4 separate regions of the Homo sapiens genome follow, and all the other regions are linked to region 3. The links come from fine-mapping of genetic effects on gene expression. A gene starts in region 3. Each other region holds a variant in brackets. All regions are shown on one strand. Distances are from middle to middle.

What was found. PIP is the estimated chance that this variant, and not a neighbour inherited with it, causes the effect. A credible set is the group of variants that fine-mapping cannot tell apart.
Region 1: its variant is the best candidate, but not a certain one, in a credible set for the expression of BMP2K in blood mononuclear cells (TOPMed, PIP 0.69).
Region 2: its variant is the best candidate, but not a certain one, in a credible set for the expression of BMP2K in whole blood (TOPMed, PIP 0.73).
Region 4: its variant is the best candidate, but not a certain one, in a credible set for the expression of BMP2K in whole blood (TOPMed, PIP 0.56).

The regions. Positions count from the first base shown.
Region 1 is chr4:78,714,044-78,719,196 of GRCh38, reverse strand. LOC101928893 (a long non-coding RNA gene) reads right to left here and starts at 3,116. Exons shown (of 3, transcript NR_188357.1): 1 at 3,062-3,116. RefSeq lists enhancers at 1-111, 112-683, 3,434-4,380. The variant C/T (reference allele first, on the strand shown) is at 2,193.
Region 2 is chr4:78,942,251-78,947,403 of GRCh38, reverse strand. No RefSeq gene overlaps it. Among named protein-coding and RNA genes, the nearest start is that of PAQR3, 5.4 kb to the right of the region's middle. The variant T/C (reference allele first, on the strand shown) is at 3,016.
Region 3 is chr4:78,774,173-78,779,325 of GRCh38, reverse strand. It overlaps BMP2K (BMP2 inducible kinase), which reads right to left and starts at 2,976. Exons shown (of 16, transcript NM_198892.2): 1 at 2,605-2,976. The coding sequence starts at 2,782. BMP2K-DT (BMP2K divergent transcript) reads left to right here and starts at 3,356. Exons shown (of 1, transcript NR_186689.1): 1 at 3,356-5,153. RefSeq lists silencers at 2,072-2,272, 2,634-3,303, 3,394-3,643 and enhancers at 1,847-2,477, 3,110-3,740.
Region 4 is chr4:78,650,058-78,655,210 of GRCh38, reverse strand. All of the region lies in intron 1 of LINC01094 (long intergenic non-protein coding RNA 1094), which reads right to left. Among named protein-coding and RNA genes, the nearest start is that of LINC01094, 6.6 kb to the right of the region's middle. The variant A/G (reference allele first, on the strand shown) is at 2,089.

The sequences.
Region 1 (5,153 bases), 60 kb after region 3:
GAGAAAGATCCACCTACAACCTCAGGTCCTCAGACTGACCAGCCCAAGGAACATCTCATCAATTTTAAATCAGGTAAGCAGCCTCTTCTTACTCTCTTCTCCAACCTCTCTCACTGTCCCTCAACCACTTTCTCCTTTCCACTCTTCAATCTCTCCCCTCTCTTAATTTCAATTCCTTTCATTTTCTGGGAGAGACAAAGGAGACACATTTTATCTGTGGACCCAAAACTCCGGCGCCGGTCACGGACTGGGAAGGCAGCCTTCCCTTGGTGTTTAATCATTGCAGGGACGCCTCTGTCATTATTCACCCATGTTTCAAAGGTGCCAGACCACGCAGGGACGCCTGCCTTGGTCCTTCACCCTTAGCAGCAAGTCCTGCTTTCCTGGGGAAGGGGCAAGTACCCCAACCCCTTCTCTCCTTGTGTCTACCCCTTCTCTGCTTTTCTGGGGGAGGGGCAAGTACCCCTCAACCCCTTCTCCTTCATTCTTAGCGGCAAGTCCCGCTTTTCTAGAAGAGGGGCAAGTACCCCAACCTCATATCTCTGCACCCCAATCCCTTATTTCCGTGCCCCAACCTCTTATATCTCTGTGCCCCAATCCCTTATTTCTGTGCCCCGACCTCTTATCTCTGCACCCCAATCCCTTATTTCCATGCCCCGATCCCTTATTTCCATGCCCTGATCCCTTATTTCTGTGCCCCAACCCCTTATTTCTGCACCCCATCCCTTATTTCCATGCCCTGACCTCCTATCTCTGTGCCCCAACCCCTTTTCCCACTTTTCTGGAAGGTAAGAACCCCCGAACCCCTTCCCTCCATTTCTCTACTCTCTCTTTTCTCTAGGCTTGCTTCCTTCATTATCATCAACCTTCCACCCTCCATTCCTCCTTCTACTCCCTTGGCCTGTGTTCTCAAAAACTTAAAACCTCTTCAACTCACACCTGACCTAAAACCTAAATGCCTTATTTTCTTCTGCAATGCCGCTTGACCCCAATACAAACTCGACAGTAGTTCCAAATAGCCAGAAAATGGCACTTTGAATTTTTCCATCCTGCAAGATCTAAATAATTCTTGCCGTAAAATAGGCAAACGGTCTGAGGTGCCTGACGTCCAGGCATTCTTTTACACATCAGTCCCTTCCTAGTCTCTGTGCCCAGTGCAACTCTTCCCAAATCTTCCTTCTGTCCCTCCCGCCTGTCCCCTCAGTACCAACCCCAAGCGTCGCTGAGTCTTTCTAATCTTCCCTTTCTACAGACCCATCTGACCTCTCCCTTCCTCCCCAGGCTGCTCCTCGCCAGGCCGAGCTAGGTCCCAATTCTTCCTCAGCCTCTGCTCCTCCACCCTATAATCTTTTTATCATCTCCCCTCCTCACACCTGGTCTGGCTTACAGTTTCGTTCCATGACTAGCCCTCCCCCTCCTGCCCAGCAATTTACTCTTAAAAAGGTGGCTGGAGATAAAGGCATAGTCAAGGTTAATGCTCCTTTTTCTTCATCCCAAATCAGAAGCGTTTAGGCTCTTTTTCATCAAATATAAAAATCCAGCCCAGTTCATGACTTGTTTGGCAGCAACCCTGAGACACTTTACAGCCCTAGACCCTAAAAAGTCAAAAGGCCGTCTTATTCTCAAAATACATTTTATTACCCAATCTGCTCCCAACATTAAATAAAACTCCAAAAATTAAATTCCCGCCCTCAAACCCCACAACAGGATTTAATTAACCTCGCCTTCAAGGTGTACAATAATAGAAAAAAGTTGCAATTCCTTGCCTCCACTGTGAGACAAACCCCAGCCACATCTCCAGCACACAAGAACTTCCAAACACCTGAACTGCAGCGACCAGGCGTTCCTCCAGAACCTCCTCCCACAGGAGCTTGCTACACGTGCCGGAAATCTGGCCACTAGGCCAAGGAATGCCTGCAGCCTGGGATTCCTATTAAGCCGCATCCCATCTGTGTGGGACCCCACTGAAAATCGGACTGTTCAACTCACCTGGCAGCCACTCCCAGAGCCCCTGGAACTCTGGCCCAAGGCTCTCTGACTGACTCCTTCCCAGATCTTCTCGGCTTAGCGGCTGAAGACTGACACTGCCTGATCACCTCGGAAGCCCCCTAGACCATCACGGACGCCAAGCTCCCAGTAACTCTCACAGTGGAAGGTAAGCCCATCCCCTTCTTAATCAATATGGAGGCTAC[C/T]CACTCCACATTACCTTCTTTTCAAGGGCCTGTTTCCCTTGCCTCCATAACTGTTGTGGGTATTGACAGCCAGGCTTCTAAACCTCTTAAAACTCCCCATCTGGTGCCAACTTAGACAATACTCTTTTAAGCACTCCTTTTTAGTTATCCCCACCTGCCGGGTTCCCTTATTAGGCTGAGACACTTTAACTAAATTATCTGCTTCCCTGACTATTCCTGGACTACAGCTATATCTCATTGATGCCCTTCTTCCCAATCCAAAGCCTCCTTTGTGTCCTCCTCTTGTATCTCCCCATCTTAACCCACAAGTATAAGATACCTCTACTCCCTCCTTGGTGACCGATCATGCACCCCTTACCATCTCATTAAAACCTAATCACCCTTACCCCACTCAACGCCAATATCCCATCCCGCAGCACACTTTAAAAAGATTAAAGCCTGTTATCACTCGCCTGCTACAGCATGGCCTTTTAAAGCCTATAAACTCTCCCTACAATTCCCCCATTTTACCTGTCCTAAAACCAGAGAAGCCTTACAAGTTAGTTCAGGATCTGCGCCTTATCAACCAAATTGTTTTGCCTATCCACCCCACGGTGCCAAACCCATATACTCTCCTATCCTCAATACCTGCCTCTACAACCCATTATTCTGTTCTAGATCTCAAACATGCTTTCTTTACTATTCCTTTGCACCCTTAATCCCAGCCTCTCTTCGCTTTCACTTGGACTGACCCTGACACCCATCAAGCTCAGCAAATTACCTAGGCTGTACTGCCGCAAAGCTTCACAGACAGCCCCCATTACTTCAATCAAGCCCAAATTTCTTCCTCATCTGTTACCTATCTCGGCATAATTCTCATAAAAACTCACGTGCTCTCCCTGCCAATCGTGTCCGACTGACCCCTCAAACCCCAGCACCTTCTACAAAACAACAACTCCTTTCCTTCCTAGGCATGGTTAGCGCGGTCAGAATTCTTACACAAGAGCCAGGACCACACCCTGTAGCCTTTCTGTCCAAACTTGACCTTACTGTTTTAGCCTAGCCCTCATGTCTGCGTGCAGCAGCTGCCACTGCTGTAATACGTTTAGAGGCCCTCAAAATCACAAACTATGCTCAACTCACTCTCTACAGTTCTCATAACTTCCAAAATCTATTTTCTTCCTCATACCTGACACATATACTTTCTGCTTCCCGGCTCCTTCAGCTGTACTCACTCTTTGTTAAGTCTCCCACAATTACCATTGTTCCTGGCACGGACTTCAATCCGGCCTCCCACATTATTTCTGATACCACACCTGACCCCCATGGCTGTATCTCTCTGATCCACCTGACATTCACCCCATTTCCCCATATTTCCTTCTTTCCTGTTCCTCACCCTGATCACGCTTGATTTATTGATGGCAGTTCCACCAGGCCTAATCGCCACACACCAGCAAAGGCAGGCTATGCTATAGCACAAGCCACTAGCCCGCCTCTTAGAACCTCTCATTTCCTTTCCATCGTGGAAATCTATCCTCAAGGAAATAATTTCTCAGTGTTCCATCTGCTATTCTACTACTCCTTAGGGATTCTTCAGGCCCTCTCCCTTCCCTACACATCAAGCTCAAGGATTTGCCCCCACCCAGGACTGGCAAATTAGCTTTACTCAACATGCCCAAGTCAGGAAACTAAAATACCTTGTAGTCTAAATAGACACTTTCACTGAATAAGTAAAGGCCTTTCCTACAGGGTCTGAGAAGGCCACCACAGTCATTTCTTCTGTTCTGTCAGACATAATTCCTCAGTTTAGCCTTCCCACCTCAATACAGTCTGATAACAGATGAGCCTTTATTAGTCAAATCAGCCAAGCAGTTTTTCAGGCTCTTAGTATTCAGTGAAACCTTTATATCCCTTATGGTCCTCCATCTTCAAGAAAAGTAGAATGGACTAAAGGTCTTTTAAAAACACACCTCACCAAGCTCAGCCACCAACTTAAAAAGGATTGGACAATACTTTTACCACTTTCCCTTCTCAGAATTCAGGCTTATCCTCGGAATGCTACAGGATACAGCCCATTTAAGCTCCTGTATAGACGCTCCTTTTTATTAGGTCCCAGTCTCATTCCAGACACCAGACCAACTTAGACTGTGCCCCAAAAAACTTGTCATCCCTACTACCTTCTGTCTAGTCATACTCCTATTCACCGTTCTCAACTACTCAAACATGCCCTGCTCTTGTTTACACTGCCGGTTTACACTGTTTTTCCAAGCCATCACAGCTGATATCTCCTGGTGCTATCCCCAAACTGCCACTCTTAACTCTTGAAGTAAATAAATAATCTTTGCTGGCAGGACTATGCTGAATCTCCTTAGGCAGTCTCTAATCAGATATCCTGAGTCATCCCAATTCTTAGACCTTTTATACCTGTTTTTCTCCTTTTGTTATTCCATTTAGTTTTTCAATTCATACAAAACCGTATCCAGGCCATCATCAATCATTCTATATGACAAATGTTTCTTCTAACATCCCCACAATATCACCCCTTACCACAAGACCTCCCTTCAGCTTAATCTCTCCCACTCTAGGTTCCCACGCCGCCCCTAATCCCGCTTGAAGCAGCCCTGAGAAACATCGCCCATTCTCTCTCCATACCACCCCCCAAAAATTTTCGCTGCCCCAACACTTCGACACTATTTTGTTTTATTTTTCTTATTAATATAAGAAGGCAGGAATGTCAGGCCTCTGAGCCCAAGCCAAGCCATCGCTTCCCCTGTGACTTGCACGTATATGCCCAGATGGCCTGAAGTAACTGAAGAATCACAAAAGAAGTGAATATGCCCTGCCCCACCTTAACTGATGACATTCCACCACGAAAGAAGTGAAAATGGCCGGTCCTTGCCTTAAGTGATGACATTACCTTGTGAAAGTCCTTTTCCTGGCTCATCTTGGCTCAAAAATCACCCCCACTGAGCACCTTGTGAC
Region 2 (5,153 bases), 170 kb before region 3:
CTCAATAGATGCAGGAAAAGCCTTCAATAAAATCCAGCATCCCTTCATGGTAGAAACCCTCAACAGATTAGGCATTGAAGGAACATACATCCACATAATAAGAGCTATCTATGATAAACCTACAGCCAACATCATACTGAACAGTCCAAAAACGGGAACCATTCCCACTGAGAAGTGAAACAAGACAAGGATGCCTACTCTCACCATTCCTATTCGATATAGTACTGGAAGTCCTAGCCAGGGAAATCAGACAAGAGAAAGAAATAAAAGGCATCCAAATAGGAAAAGAAGAAGTCAAACTATCCCTTTGCCGAAAATATGATCCTATACCTAGAAAACCCTAAAGATTCTGCCAAAAGGCTCCTGGATCTGATAAACAAATTGAGTAAAGTTTCAGGATACAAAATCAAAGTACAAAAATCAGTAGCATTTTTACATCAACAGTGTTCTAGCTGAGAACCAAATTAAGAACACAATCTCATTTACTATAGACACAAAGAAAATGAAATACCTAAGAATCCATCTAATAAAGGAAGTGAAAGATCTCTATAATGAGAACTACAAAACACTGCTCAAATAAATCAGAAACAATACAAAGAAATATAAAATATTCCATGCTCATGGCTTGGAAAAATCAATATAGTTAAAACGGCCATACTACCCAAAGCAATTTACAGATTCAACTCCATTCCTATCAAAATACCAGTGTCATTTTTCACAGATTTAGAAAAAGCTATTCTAAAATTCATTTGGAACCAAAAAAGAGCCCGAATAGCCAAAGCAATCCTAACAAAAAGAACATATTCAGAGACATCCCACTATCTGACTTCAAACTATACTACAAGGCTACAGTAATCAAAACAACAGGGTAACGGTATAAAAACAGACACATACAACAGTGAACAGAATAGAGAACCCAGAAATAAGCCCACATACCTACAACCATCTGATCTTAGACAAAAATCAACAAAAACAAGCAATGGGGAATTGTGCTGGGATAAGCGGCTAGCCATATGCAGAAGAATAAAACTGGACCCCTACCTTTCACCGTATATGAAAATTGTCTCGAGATAGATTAAAGATTTAAATGTATGACCTCAAACTACAAAAAGCCTGGAAAAAGACCTAGGAAATACCCTTCTCAACATAGGCTTTGGCAAAGAATTTATGTTAATTGTGACAAAAACAAAAACTGACAAGTGGGACTTAATTAGAGAACTTCTGCACGGCAAAATGAATTACCAACAGATAAACAGACTACAGAATGGAAGAAAATATTTGCAAACTATGTATCTGACTAAGAACTAATATCTAGAATCTACAAGGAACTTTAAAAAAATAAACAAGCAAAAACCAAACAATCCAATTAAAAAATGGGCAAAGGACATGAACAGACATTTCTCAAAAGACGACACACAAGTGGCCAAAAAAAATATGAAAAAATGCTCAACATCAGTACTCATCAGAGAAATGCAAATCAAAACCACAATGAGATATCATCTCATACCAGTCAGAATGGTGGCGATTATTTAAAAGTCAAAAAGCAACAGAGGGTGAGTGATATGGTTTGGCTCTGTGTCACCACCCAAATCTCATCTCAAACTGTAATCTCCTCATGTCAAGGGAAGGACCCTGTGGGAGGTGACTGGATCATGGAAGCAGTTCTCCCATGCTGTTCTCATGATAGGAAGGGAGTTCTCAGAAGATCTGATAGCTTAAAAGTGGCAGTTTCCCCTGCCTGCTCTTTCTCTCCTACTGCCATGTAAGAAAGTGCTTGCTTTTCCTTTGCCTTCTGCCATGATTGTAAATTTCCCGAGGCCTTCCCAGCCATGTGGAACTGTGAGTCAACTAAACCTCTTTCCTTTATAAATTACCCAGTCTCAGGTAGTATCTTTATAGCAGTGTGAAAACAGACTAATACAGTGAGACTGTGGAGAAATGGGAATGCTTATATATTGTTGATGGGAATGTAAACTAGTTCAGCCACTGTGGAAAGTGGTTTGGAGATTTCTCAAGAAACCTAAAATAGAACTACCATCTGACCCAGCAATCCCACTACTGGGTATATACTCAAAGGAAAATAACTCATCCCGTCATAAAGACACATGCACCTGTATGTTCATTGCAGCACTATTCACAATAGCAAGGACATGAAATCAGCCTAAATACCCATCAACAATGGACTAAAGAAAATGTGGTACATATACACCACAGAATACTGAGTAGCCAAAAAAAAGAACAAAATCGTTCTTTCAGCGCTTTGCAGGAACATGGATGGAGCTGGAGATCATTATCCTAAGCGACCTGACCTAACACAAGAACAGAAAACCAAATACCACGTGTTCTCACAAGTGGGAGCTCAACATTGAATCCACGTGATTGTAAAAATGGGAAAAAGAGACACTGGGGATCACTAGATCGAGGAGGGAGAGAGGGGGGCATGGGCCAAAGAACCACCTGTTGGGTTCTATGCTTATTGCCTGGATGGCCTGAAGCCTCAGTGTCATGCAGTTTACCCATGTAAGAAACCTTCACAGGTACCCTTTCACCTATAATAAAAGTTGAAATGTTAAAAAAAATTACAGAGGTTTTTTTTCTCTCATTCTATATTTTCTCTCATTCTATAGTCTGTTTCTCTCATTCTATAGTCTGTTTACTCAAAATATTTTCTCTCATTCTATAGTCTGTTTACTCAAAAATGCTTGTTTGCAACATGTTTAAGAACCAAAGGGGAAAAAAATAGAGAAGGAAAGGTTGGAGACATATCTGAGAGAAGGATAATTGACAGAGCAAGGTCCATTAGGAAACGAAGGGGAGCATGATTCAGAAAATAGGCAGCAGGGTTGACCTTAAGTAGGAGGTGTTAAAGTAGTCATTTCTATTGAGACAGAGGAAAGGAAACAAAGAATGGGCTTTAATTGTGAGTGAACTTACAGGTGGAAGGCTAGCAGTAGAAAGCTGAGAGAGTTCCTACTCTATGACCTCTATTTTCTCTGTGAGATAGGAAACAGCTGA[T/C]TTGCTAAGGAAGAGGGGAGATGGGCACATATAATGTCAAGTAAACATTTAAAATATCCAAATGATGTTGAAGGTTCTGTAGAGATTGTAAACAACTTGTAGAAATACCAATCCATGCCATCCTGTCATTTTCTTTAGCAATATGGTTGTAGAATTAAAGAGGACATAGTTAAATTGATGAACTGCTTCTTTGTTTTTTCAGACAAGCTTAATTAGGCAGGGGAGTCAAAAATCATTGACAAGGAACTGGTTGCAGTGATGGGGAAGGAAGCAAAGGAGGTTACTAATAAAATTGTGCCAAGGGAAGAGATGACTGCAAGACTTTTGGCTTAAGAGGCTGAGTAAATAGAGATTTAGGGATGTAAATAGATTTAGGAGAAAATATAACAGTTCATTTGTAATATTTCAGGTTTCTATGTCCGGCTCCACATGCAAATCCAGATGCATAGAAAGGAGATCCAACCTGAAAAAGACAGTAACTGAAGCCATGGAAATATAAAGGGAAAAAATAGAATTTACAACACTGAAGAAGGAATCCTGAAAACATTCGGAAGGGTCAGACAGAGAAACAGTGGCTATAAAGTCCCTTGGGACTTTATAGACAAGCCAGAAAGATAAGGAAAAGAGTCCAGATGAGGGTGGTCCCAAAAGTCCAGAAAAGAGAGTTCAATGGTAGAGTGATCAAAATGTTAGTGCTGCTGAAATCTGCAAAGGTTGTTGTCTAAAATTTGTCTTATTCATCTCTGTTAGCATATAGGAAAATGTGTGGCACATTGTCAGAATTCAGTAAATGTAAAGTTCTGTGTTGTGGACATCTCAATACCTGCAAATCTCACTCCAACACTGTTTGAATTGTAACAAATGCAGAAAGGGCAAGGAAGGAAGGAAGGAAGGGAAGGAGGGAAGGAGGGGAGGGGAGGAGAGGGGAGGCGATCTGTCTTACCCCAAAGGCCCCATTCAGCCCCCATGTCTCCTGTCCCCAGGCTCCTGCTCCCACTTGGAAATTCAGGACTTCAGCTCCTTGAGAACTGCATCCCATTCCCATCCACACCACCTCAAGCATCTCTAAAATCCAGGATTTGTCTCGCAGTTGTTCATGATAGGGTGCTACCATTTTCCCATTATCTTTGACTGGACAGTTCAGTTCCCCAACCTGCCACTTCAAGAGGCACCAAAGTCTCCTGCTGGATGCTGTCGATCTCCACCTATCACAGATGCTGGTGCCTCACCAAGTGCATCAACAAGTTTTATTCTTCCACCAGACATGCTGCTGAAGATCTCTGTTAAGCACCATGACTAAACAGCCAGAGCCCTCAAAGTGCCACAATGTCATTGTTATCTGTGGGGAAATGCGCCCTCTCACCTTTGTGTTACCCTCTGTTAGAGGTGTCCCAAAGCAGTGTTGCTCCTGCTTCCATTGTCTTACAGATTTGAATAGAAGAGCTCTTTCCATTTCTATTATTTTGTTTTTTTACCTATAGATCTCTTTCTCACTCTAGGACTCAGGCATGGATTGTTGCTATATCTACCTTTTCATATTTGTTTGTGAATTTTATAAGTGTTTTTTTAGTGCTTGTTGTTAGAGTGCATAACTGGAAAGTTAAGTCATGTAAATGGACTAGGGAGAACTGAAAAAGGCCATAAATTGTTGAAATAAATCCAGAAGTCATTTTGCAAAAGGTTTCATGGGTACACTGCTGAAGACCAAAGCAGTTCCCATTTTTAGGGTTTTTTTTTTTTTTTTTTGAGACGGAGTCTCGCTCTGTCACCCAGGCTGGAGTGCAGTGGCGCAATCTCGGCTCACTGCCAGCTCCACCTCTCGGATACATGCTATTCTCCTGCCTCAGCCTTCCATGTAGCTGGGACTACAGGCACCCGCTACCACACCCGGCTAATTTTTTGTATTTTTAGTAGAGACAGGGTTTCACGGTGTTACCCAGGATGGTCTCAATCTCCTGACCTCGTGATCCGCCTGCCTCGGCCTCCCAAAGTGCCATTTTTAGTTCTTTACTCTAGTGTCCCATCATTATCATAACTCAGCTACTTTCTCTGTGTCTGATAATCTCTGGGCATCTTTCTACTTTGTTTCAAATAACAGGCTACGGATTCTCTTCCCACATCTCCAGGTCAAATTCCTA
Region 3 (5,153 bases):
ATTTACAGAGCTGTTGGCCATGATTTCAATGTTAATAAATCAACCAAATATATTAAATAAGGTGTATTTAAACTGCAACAGACATAAAACAAGGTTGTATCTTGATCAGTTGACAAAAATGTTGTGAACAGCAGCTTTCAGGAATCTAACACCATAGTAGGAGCAGTGGTTCAGTGTTTGCTAATCCAGTTTTCACGGTGACTTTTTGCAACATAACTAATTATATAAAAATAACAACAGAGAGACGGACGGATTTATTAAAAAGACACTGCAGAGGTCATTATGAGTAAACTACCAATGTTTGCAGGAGCATGGCAAAAACACTTCAGGGCACAGTATCTACTGAGTCTTCCTGGCTCTGTTTAAACAACTTTGGGCCAAAACAAAAAATGCAAAATCTACCAAGTCTGTGCTTTGGTCTATCTTAGCTTCTACCGCTTTGCCTACTCAGTGGTATCCCTCTCCCCAAATCAAGTACTCTAAACTTGAATGCATTTTCACAAGTACATGACCCAATCTTATGATCAGGCAGACCCATCAATTATTGATTAATCACGCTTAAATGCGAACTAGACTTGTGCTTAAACATCTTGTCTAAATTGTGGCACTATTTATTAGGAAGGGAGAGGGGATATTAAGCATCTGAAATAAGACCGGCCAGGATCAAAATTAAACTGATTATACATAGACAATTCCAGTTGTGTGGGTGATGGAGACAGAAAAAATACACAAGGAAAGAAAACCTAGGCCTTGGCCTCCCTTCTAGGAAATTAAAGCTGGGGTGTAGGATGGAGAAGTTTCATCTTCTAAAAGGATTTCTTCAGTCCTTGCTTCCTCCTAGCATTTGATTATTGACTTTTCAAGAGAAATGATACATTTATGGCAAAAGTCAGTGGAACACTCTAACAGTGACATTAGCGCTTGAAATAAACTTTTATTCTTCGTTGTGGTTGAACGAACTCTCCTTTTGAAATTCATCTTTATTACTTTCCAAAATTATTTTTTTATTGAAAATGGCTTGCTTAGGGTAGTGATAAGATATGCTTAGGGTAGTGAGTAATACAAGTTACAAATTCAAAATCTAATTTGTGAAATGTCAGTATTTTTTTTCTATTAAATAAAAGACCCATCTGGGATTTAGTGGAATGAGTGAGTGTAACACTACTCAAGCTACATTTCAATTAGTTACTAAAACAATTCAAAGACAGAATATGGCATTTGAGTGAAGAGCCATGTGCTTTTAAAACCTACAACACAATCTAAACCAATAATTGAAATTCATGTGTAATAAAGAGCTAGAAAACTTTATAGTATAGTAAATCTTTTATAAAGACCACTCACCACATATTCATTCTTCTGAAAAACTAAGGATCCTCCTTCTCCCACCTCTCCAAGTTTCGGCTAAGATCATTATTCTGAGCAATGGTTCACGAAACAATGATATGTACACTTGAATAATTCACGATTTCTTTCTCTTTCAAATATTTTATACAAAAATCTTCAGGTTTTTTCCCTTGTGCTAATTTACTGTTGTGTATAGCATTTCAAAAAATACAAGCGGAATCTCAGTCTACTGTTTTCAAACCACATCAACGTCTAACGCTCGGAGAACTGAATCCACTCTTCGATTTTTTTTATCTTAACCATAGAACTTAAAAGGGCCATTTATCAACAAAAAGTATTTCTTTTAAAGTGTTTATTTTGTAGTATCATTTTGCAACTAAAAACTCAAAGGCCAATGAAGCATGCAGCACACAGGGCAAGTATTTTCTACAAGGCAATTATGCCAGAAATACAAAACTAAATTCTAAGTTCTTCTTTTAAAATGGAGTAAACTTTTTTTGTAAGTAGACTTCTACCTGCCGTCATAACCTGTTCCAGATCATGAAGGACCGACCACAAAACCTCGTTAAGTGAAAGTTAACCTGCTTTTATATCACCTTTTAAACTACTATCAAAGAGACATACTGGGAGGGCATGAATAGCACCTTGTCCAACAGAGAAGATTCTAAATAACAAAGATAAATGGGCTCCAAGTTTACCTGCTCCTCAGTGCAACCTACTAACTGAATTTAGAGCAAAGGATCACCTCCAACACGCACACATGCACACAAATACATTGTTTTTCAACAGATGACTGAGCTGCAGCAAAGCCCAGCTTGACACCAGGGGCTGCAGGGTCCTATGCCCTGCAGCGCGGGTGGAGGCTTAGATGAAAAGGCCAACGCATGACACCCGTCTGAGCCACAGCTGGCAGAACGGAGCTTCAACCCTGTTCGATCTGACCCTCTAATGAGTCACTGGCCCAATCGTAACACCAACCCACTTCCTAGCCCGTCTACTACCTATTTTCTCGCGTCAAAAAGCACAGAAAATGATTTAAACTAGGCATGAGAGAACTGTGCACCGGCCGGGGCAGCCAGCGGCAAGAAAAGCCAGCTTAAGAGAGAAAGCCCGAGCCACTCTTTAGGAGCCCCCGCTGGCCCGGCAGCAGAGGAAGAATGGGGTATAAGAGTCAGTCCGGAGGGCGAGGACCCGGAGAAGCCGCCGCCACACCCCAACCCTCCCTCACCTGCCTGTCCGAGCCTCCCCGGGCGCCCGTACCTTCGGCCAGCGACTCTTCCAGGGTGACCTGGTGGCGGCCGACCGCGAACACCCGGACCCCCACGGACGAGCCGCCGGAGCCGCAGCCGGCCCCGGCCCCGGCCCCGCCAGCCCCGCCACCCGCCGCTCCGCCGCCGCTGCCGCCCTCCGACTTGGGCATCCGAGAGAACTTCTTCATGGTCCCGCCGGCGAGCTGGAGGGCGCAGGGAGCGTGCAAGGGCAAGTCCCCGGCCCGGCGCGCAGCCGGGCGTCCGCGAGGGGTCGCCGCCCCTGGCCCGTCCGAGCGTGCTGCGGCCCGCCAAGCCTCACATTCCGCGCTCCCCAAGCGCACAGCCTGGGCCCCGCCGCCCGCTCCGCGGCTCCGCTGCAGCTGCCCGGCTCCCGCAGAGGGCGGTGGGGAGGGCGGGGACGGGGCGGGGCGCGAGGGGGCGGGTCCGAATCCAGGGGCGACGCCGCCGCCTCCGCCAGTGCCCCGGGCGTCCCGCCGCCTCACTAAGCGCCTGGAGCGCGAGCCGGGGTAGAGGAAGAGAGCGAAAGAGGCTGGGCGGCCGGCCCCTCCAGGGAGTGGGCTAGACGTCTCAGGCCACAAACCCGCAGGACCGCAGCCCGTCGCGCCGCCGCCGCCCCGGCCGAACCCGCGCCGCCCGCCACTCGTGGCCGTTGGCGGGGGGGGGGGGGGGGCGCTGCTGCCAACCGCTCACTGAGGCCGGGCGACCCGCGCAGGCGCGCTGCCCGCGCCGCCGGAAGTGACGGTTCCGGCTCTTGTCACGTGGAGGGGGACCAAGGGAGGTGATTGTGGGGGTTGGGGACTAGGGCAAAGTCGGGGGTCCCGGGTCCGGGGTTGCGCCGGGAGGGTACTGGCCAGGCCCGACTTCAAGCAGGGAGGTGGCCCGGGACTGGCTCCCGCGCTGGTCACGCACCGGGGTCCGTCATCTCGACCGGGAGTCGCTGTGCCACTCTAGGGGCTTAAAAATGCCGCCAACAACTTTACCCCTGCTGAGGAACTTCTCGCTTCGTTTCTTAGCCAGTTTTCCAGGCCTTCTCCCTTGAGAGTCTCCTTCCGCTCGCCCACCCTGAGCGTAGGAGGTGGGAGCAGGACGGAACTGGAGTGGATTCCAGTAACTGGACTTCTAAACCGGCTCGGTGTCGTCGCGCTCTGTAGCGGACGCTTGTGCTGGGAAGCGTTTTGCAGTTTATAAATTACTTAGGAGTACTTTAAACATCTCACGCCTGCTGTACCACAGCCATGTGGGGGTATTCAGAACAGGTATTAAGGTCGTTTTGCAGACCATTCATCACTCTTGGCTAAAAGAACTTAACGGAGTCGCCCAAGGTCACACAGCTGGCTCGTGGTAATTGGGGACCATTCTTTGATTCATAATTTTGTGCTTTTGGCCACCCTGAAAAAGTAAGGTCAGATCGTTGAAAAACGGGCAGATTTAAGGCTGTTTGGAAGCAAAAGCGACCACTGCGTTCCCCTCAAATCAAAGAGATTTGCACCCCCTACCAAAAAAAAAAAAAAAAAAAAAAGCCCTGTTGTATCAATTTCATAAACTGCAGGAGTCTCCCGACTGCAGGGTGAAGCAACAAAATAAATATGGGTGTAAAACATTCAGGAGTGGTAGGGAATGGCAAACTGTAGAGCCTGTGTAAAGAGAGCAGCCAATTCTCAGCTCCAGCCTACTTTTCCACAAAAGAAGATAGGCACACACACTGTGCCCAGAGGTTCCAGTTTCTTAAGAGAACCAAAAACCTGGAACTGTTTTCTAATGTGGCATTTCCCTAATTTTTAAAATATAGATCAAATAAATTGTATCTGCAGGACTCCAGTATGCACCTTCTATGAAAGTAGATGAATGTGGTTCTATCCCCACCCCTATTTCTTTATTCTTTTTAATGAGATAACGGGTAGAAACATTAGAAAATGTGCTTAGACAAAAACTTTGAACTTAAAATCCTTGTTCTTTCTTCCCTGCTATTTGAAGAGAAGCTATTTCTGCCAACACTAAAATAGTGCTCTGGATTTAGGCATTTCTGCTACATAACCCACTAAACTAAAATTCTTCATCCAGAGACCTGACGTTTAAAGTAGATTCCAGCTTAGTGGAAGTGAGATTATATGTCAGATGATTGATGTGGTGTGGCAGTTGGGGATTTCCATTTAGAAACAAGCTGACCACTTTCGTTGCTGTGGGGCTTCATTGTGGAGTCTCATTCCTAAATTTGAATTGTTTTTTAAGCAGAATAATGGAAAGATTAAGTCATTTCATGCAATTCAAAACTGGAGTCAGACAAACATACAAAGTTTGGGCCTGATATAACTTCACCTGATCACAACAAGCCTGCTATAATAAGTTTCAAAGTTAGTTTACGAGGATCACTTGAGGCCAGGAGTTCAAAACCAGCATGGTCAACATAACAAGACCTCATCTCTTTAAAAAAAAAAAAAAAAAAAATTAAAAATTAGCCAGGTATGGTGGTGGTGCACCTGTAATCCCAGCTACTCAGGAGGCTGAGGCAGGAGGATCGCTTGAACCAAGGAGTTCAAG
Region 4 (5,153 bases), 120 kb after region 3:
AACATAGTAGATATTTCAAATTTCTCCAAAATATTTCACCCAAAATTCATACTGTTTTCCAGTAAGGTCCAAATTGGATTAAATTTAAGTTTATGTCACTTTAATGCAGTTGTTTTTAAAGAAATAAAAACTTTGCATCAGAATCCAGAGCATATGTTTCTCATTTGGCTGCCATTCCTGCTTTGTGGCATGCAGAGTTCACTTCCCCAATCAGGACAGTTTTGGATGGCTGCTGCTCTTTCATAACCCAGCTGGTTTGTAATCCTCGTTAGGTTAGGGAATGAGCCCCTCAGACACTATTGCTCAGAATTCTTTAAAGTCTTAAGGCAGATTCTCTCTGGGTGCAGTAGCTGACACCCATGATGTGCTCTAACACTTGGGACAGTGGGGTGGAAGGATCACTTGAGCCCAGGAGTTTGAGACCAGCCTGGGAAACATAATCAGACCCCATCTCTAAAAAATAAAGAATAAAAAATTAGCTGGGCATAGTGGTATGCACCAGTAATTCCTGGGGGTCAGGGGTCAGGGGCTGAGGCTGAGGCAGGAAGATCTCTTTAGCCCACGAAGTCAAGTCTGCAGTGAGCTACAATCACACTGGTGCACTCTATCTAGCCTAGATGACAGAGTAAGACCCTGTCACACACACAAAAGGCAAACTCTAAATGAACAGAAAGACCTACATATACTTATATGGATGAAGGCAACACAGAACACCAAGAGGCTTCCACTCAGAGCACAATCATGTTGTTGGGAATTTGAGGGCAGATGTAGAAAGATACACATGCTGTGACCACAGTGCAAGGACACTTTTCTTTGTTGGTAAAAATTCAGGGATGCCTTATTTTATGCTGACGCTCAAATCAATATGCTTACTGGTAAATGCTCCTGGGCTAAGGCTGTTAGAAGATGGAACGCTGCTGTTAGCTTGCTTCCATACAGAATGGATTTCTAGACTTCCATAATTTTATTTGATTTGGATTAATGGGGCTTGAATATATTCATGTGATAAAACAACTGAAAATCATGTTGCTCTTTGTAGGATAAAATGAAATATAAATAGATTGTTAAAAAAATCCAGTTTATAATTTTGTTTTGAATCATATACTATTGTATACTATTATAGGAGAATGATAATATTCTTAAAACCAAAGGAATATGTAAAAGGTATGGAGAAAAATGTGTAATTGAGAACATTCTATCCATTAACATCTTTTTTCTGTAATATTTTGTGTGGAAAAGATAGCTAGTTGCCTAACCTTGATTCTTATCCCAGCAGAATAGCTCTCAAGACAAAAACTACATTTCCTAGTCACCCCTGTGGCTAACTGTGGCCACGTGACTAATCTCTGTCAAAGATATGAAAGCATAATTCCTAGATAAAACGTTTAGAAGGGCTACTTAACACAATTTTACTCAGCTGGGGGTGATACTTTCTGCATCTCCTTCTTATTTTGGCTTGCAATGCAGGTGTGATAACTGGAGCTTCAGCAGCCCAGAGATGACCTTAATAATAAAAGCCATGTGTTAAGATAATAGAGAAAAGAGCCTGGGGGTCCCAGATGATATTATGGAGTGGCCATAGCTAGATAGTTTCTCTTCCAACTCCTTTTATCTGAGAAAAGAAACCCCCAAATTCCAGCTTGCTTTAGGCTTTGGTAGTTTGCTTTTTTTTTTTTTTTAAATGTGCAGCAAAACCTAATCCTGATATATTAGCAATAAAATCCTCTACTCCCAGTCCTAGCATTGAATTTCAGAACCCAAACACCTAAAACTACTGATAATCAGTATAAGAGTATAATTTGAGAACCATGAGTTTGGTTCTTGTCTGTGGATTTTCACTGAAAAAATTATAAAAATAATTATTGAAACTAACTTCTATTTTTATCGTTGTAAGTCTTGCTTTCACTGAAAAAAAGAAAAGAATAGGTAAGTGGCACTGGATCTCATTTGCATTTTCTTTCTCTGTCTCTGTCTGTCTCTCTCTCTGTCTCTCTCTGCCTCTCTCTCTCTCTGCCTCTCTCCCCAAGTAATATTCAGCAATGATGTAAGTTTTGTTCTGGTCAAAGTATTTATTTACTTATTTTTCGC[A/G]TATCTATCTAACACTTTAAGTTCATTAAGTATACCCACATAATTATCTCTTATGATTCTCATAATAGATCCATGAAGTAGGCAAGACAAACATATTTCCATTTCTACCAAAGTGGAAACTGGGTTTTCATCCTCATTACATCAATTTGAGGCAGATGGGACTATTATCTCTAACATACATAAAGCAGAATCATGAAATGATCACATCATTTCACCCAGTGCCTTGAATACAAGCTGGCATTCAATACATACTTGCTGGATGCCTGGTTGAGTGCCTGGGTAAGTGAGTGAATAAGGAAAATGATGCAGGGAAATTAAAGGAGGTATCAGAGTCACAACATTGGAATTAAAATGAGGGGTTTTCACTTCTATTCTAGTTCTTTTTTCATTAATTATACCGTGTTGCCTCTCCCTAGAAATTCATTCTTCAATTTGCTGAGTTGTCCATTTGAGTGTACTGTGAGTGGAAGGCAGTTTTCAGATGGTCATCAATGGTGAACTTCAGCTGATGTCCCAGCACAACATTGTACACACCACAAAACAGTTTGCTTCCACTGGCAGCTCTCCCAATCCTCACATATTAATGCTTTGCCAACAGCTATTGTCTTTGACAAGTGACTGTGCTGGCAACATAGCATTTCCTTAAACAAAGCCCTTCACATGGATAGCCAGCAAGGAGTCCCATTTCTAGCTTTGCCTGATACCCTCACACAGCTAGAGTATTTGTTTTACTTGGGAAAATGTTCCAGGAGGCTCTGTGCTTGTGGTAATTGTTGTGGTTTAACAACAGTTTAAAGATTTGAACTAGGAAACATAACAGCCCCAGTGGATCCTAACATTTAGAACATTTTCTTTCTTCTGAAGGAGCTAAGAAATAAACAAGAGCCAGAAAAATCTGAAATTATCACCCTGGGTTATTCTAAGATGTGTGTCTGAAGTGAATTTACATTTTTTTTTTTTTTTGGCAGACAACTGAGACAAATATTAAATGATTTCTCCTAAGTCACCTAATTTGTCAAGCTATTAGCTATAAAGTCTAAGTCAGGGTGTTCAAGGCTTCCCTGGGCCACATTGGAAGAAAAATTGTCTTGGGCCACACATAAAATACACTAACACCAATGATAGCTGATGAGCTTAAAAAAAATCGCAAAACAATCTCATAATGTTTAAGAAAGTTTACAGATTTGTTCTAGGCCATATTCAAAGATGTCCTGGACCACATGCAGTCTGTGGGCCGTGGGTTGGACAAGCTTGGTCTAGGTCCTATACTACTCAGTTAGCTAGTGGATGGAATTCTAAGCCTGCCATTTGCTGGCTGTGCAAAATTGGAGAAATTAATATTTCTCTCTGAACCTCAGTTTGATTTTTTTTTGTTTTTTGAGACAAGGTCTTGCTCTGTCACCCAGGCTGGAGTGCTGTGGCACAATCATGACTCACTGCAGCCTTGATTTCTTAGGCTCAAGTGATCCTCCCAGATCAGCGTCTTGAGTAGCTGAGATTACAGGTGTGTGTCACCATGCCCAGATAAATTTTTAATTTTTTGTAGAGAGAGAGTCTTGCTGTGTTGCCTATGCTGGTCTCAAAATCCTGGGCTCAAGCCGTCCTCTTGCCTTGGCCTCCCAAAGTGCTGAGATTACCAGCATGAGTCATTTCACCAGGCCCGAACCTCAATTTGTATATATTCATAGCTGGAATAATGTTTCTTGACTCAAAAGTTGTCAAAAGTTTAAATGAGATGTAAGGGGTTTAGAAATTTAGAAGTCACTCGATTCCATGTTAGTTTCTTTCCTTCCCCCACTAAATCTATTTCTAGAACCCCTTGCCATATTTTGTGACCAAGGAGAAGCACTGAGAAATCCAAAATAAGCTTTATCAAAGCATTCTAATTTGCTTTAGTATAGACAAGTTTAAAATTTCCCATAACATGTATAATTCACAAAAATACCTAAGAGGATCTAGAAAACAATTGGCCTGGTTTACTTCACCTGTGATAATTCTGGTTCTTTGGTGTATTATACTTTTGGCCAGGATTCTGTAATAGGACTCAGAAAATTGAGTGAAAACATCTTGGTGCCAATGACTTTCTCACAATCTGGACCCAAAAGTCCTTACCTATCTATGCCTTTTCATAGCATGCCCATACTTTATTCAGCAAGTGTATTTGAAGCACCAAGTATGTGCCAGGCACTATCTAGGTGCTAAGTATACAGCAATGATCAAAATAGATAAAAGAACTGTCTGTCAGTAGGGGCAGACAGACAATAAACCAAATAAGTGAGGTCTGTTGGTGAGTGATAAGCATGATGGAGAAAAATAAGGTAGAAAGAGAGACATGGAGTGTTGGGGGCAGGAGTTTGCAATTAAACATGGTAGGAAAGTCGCATGAGAAGATGAACAAGTAAAGACATAAAGGAGGTAGGAAATGAGCTCTGCAGAAATCTGGAAGAGCAGAAAGCATGGGAAGTACATAGACCCTGAGGCAGGAAAGTGCCTGGCATATTTATAGAACAGTAAGAAGGCCAGTGTGGCTGCAGCAGAGACAAACAAAGGAGAAAATAGCAGGACATGAAGTGAGATGGGTAAGGAGATGGGGAGGGGGCAGATTGTGTATGGCCATTATAAGGACTTTGTATTTTACTCTGAGTGAAATGGAAGTATTTGGTAGGTTTGAGAAATGACATGATCTGACCTATGTTTTAAAAGAACTATTTCAACCGCTGGGTTGTGAAATAGGCTGAAAAGCAGTGAGATCAGCAAGGAGATGGTTGCAGTATCCAGTGAGACATGATGCAAATATTTGCTGATGGATGGGATGTGGGGTGTGAGAGACAGAGATAAATCAAAAAGGACTCCAAGTTTTTTGGCATGAGAAAGTAAAAAGATGGCGTTGCCTTCAACTTATGTGCACAAGACTACAGGAAAAACAGGTTTGGAGGCAGATCAGCAGTCTGGTATTGGACATACACATTTGAGATGATTATTAGTCATCCAAAGAGAGATGTCATGTAGGAAATTAGATATCAAGTCAAGACACACGGGAGAAATCTGGGCTGGAGATATGAAAA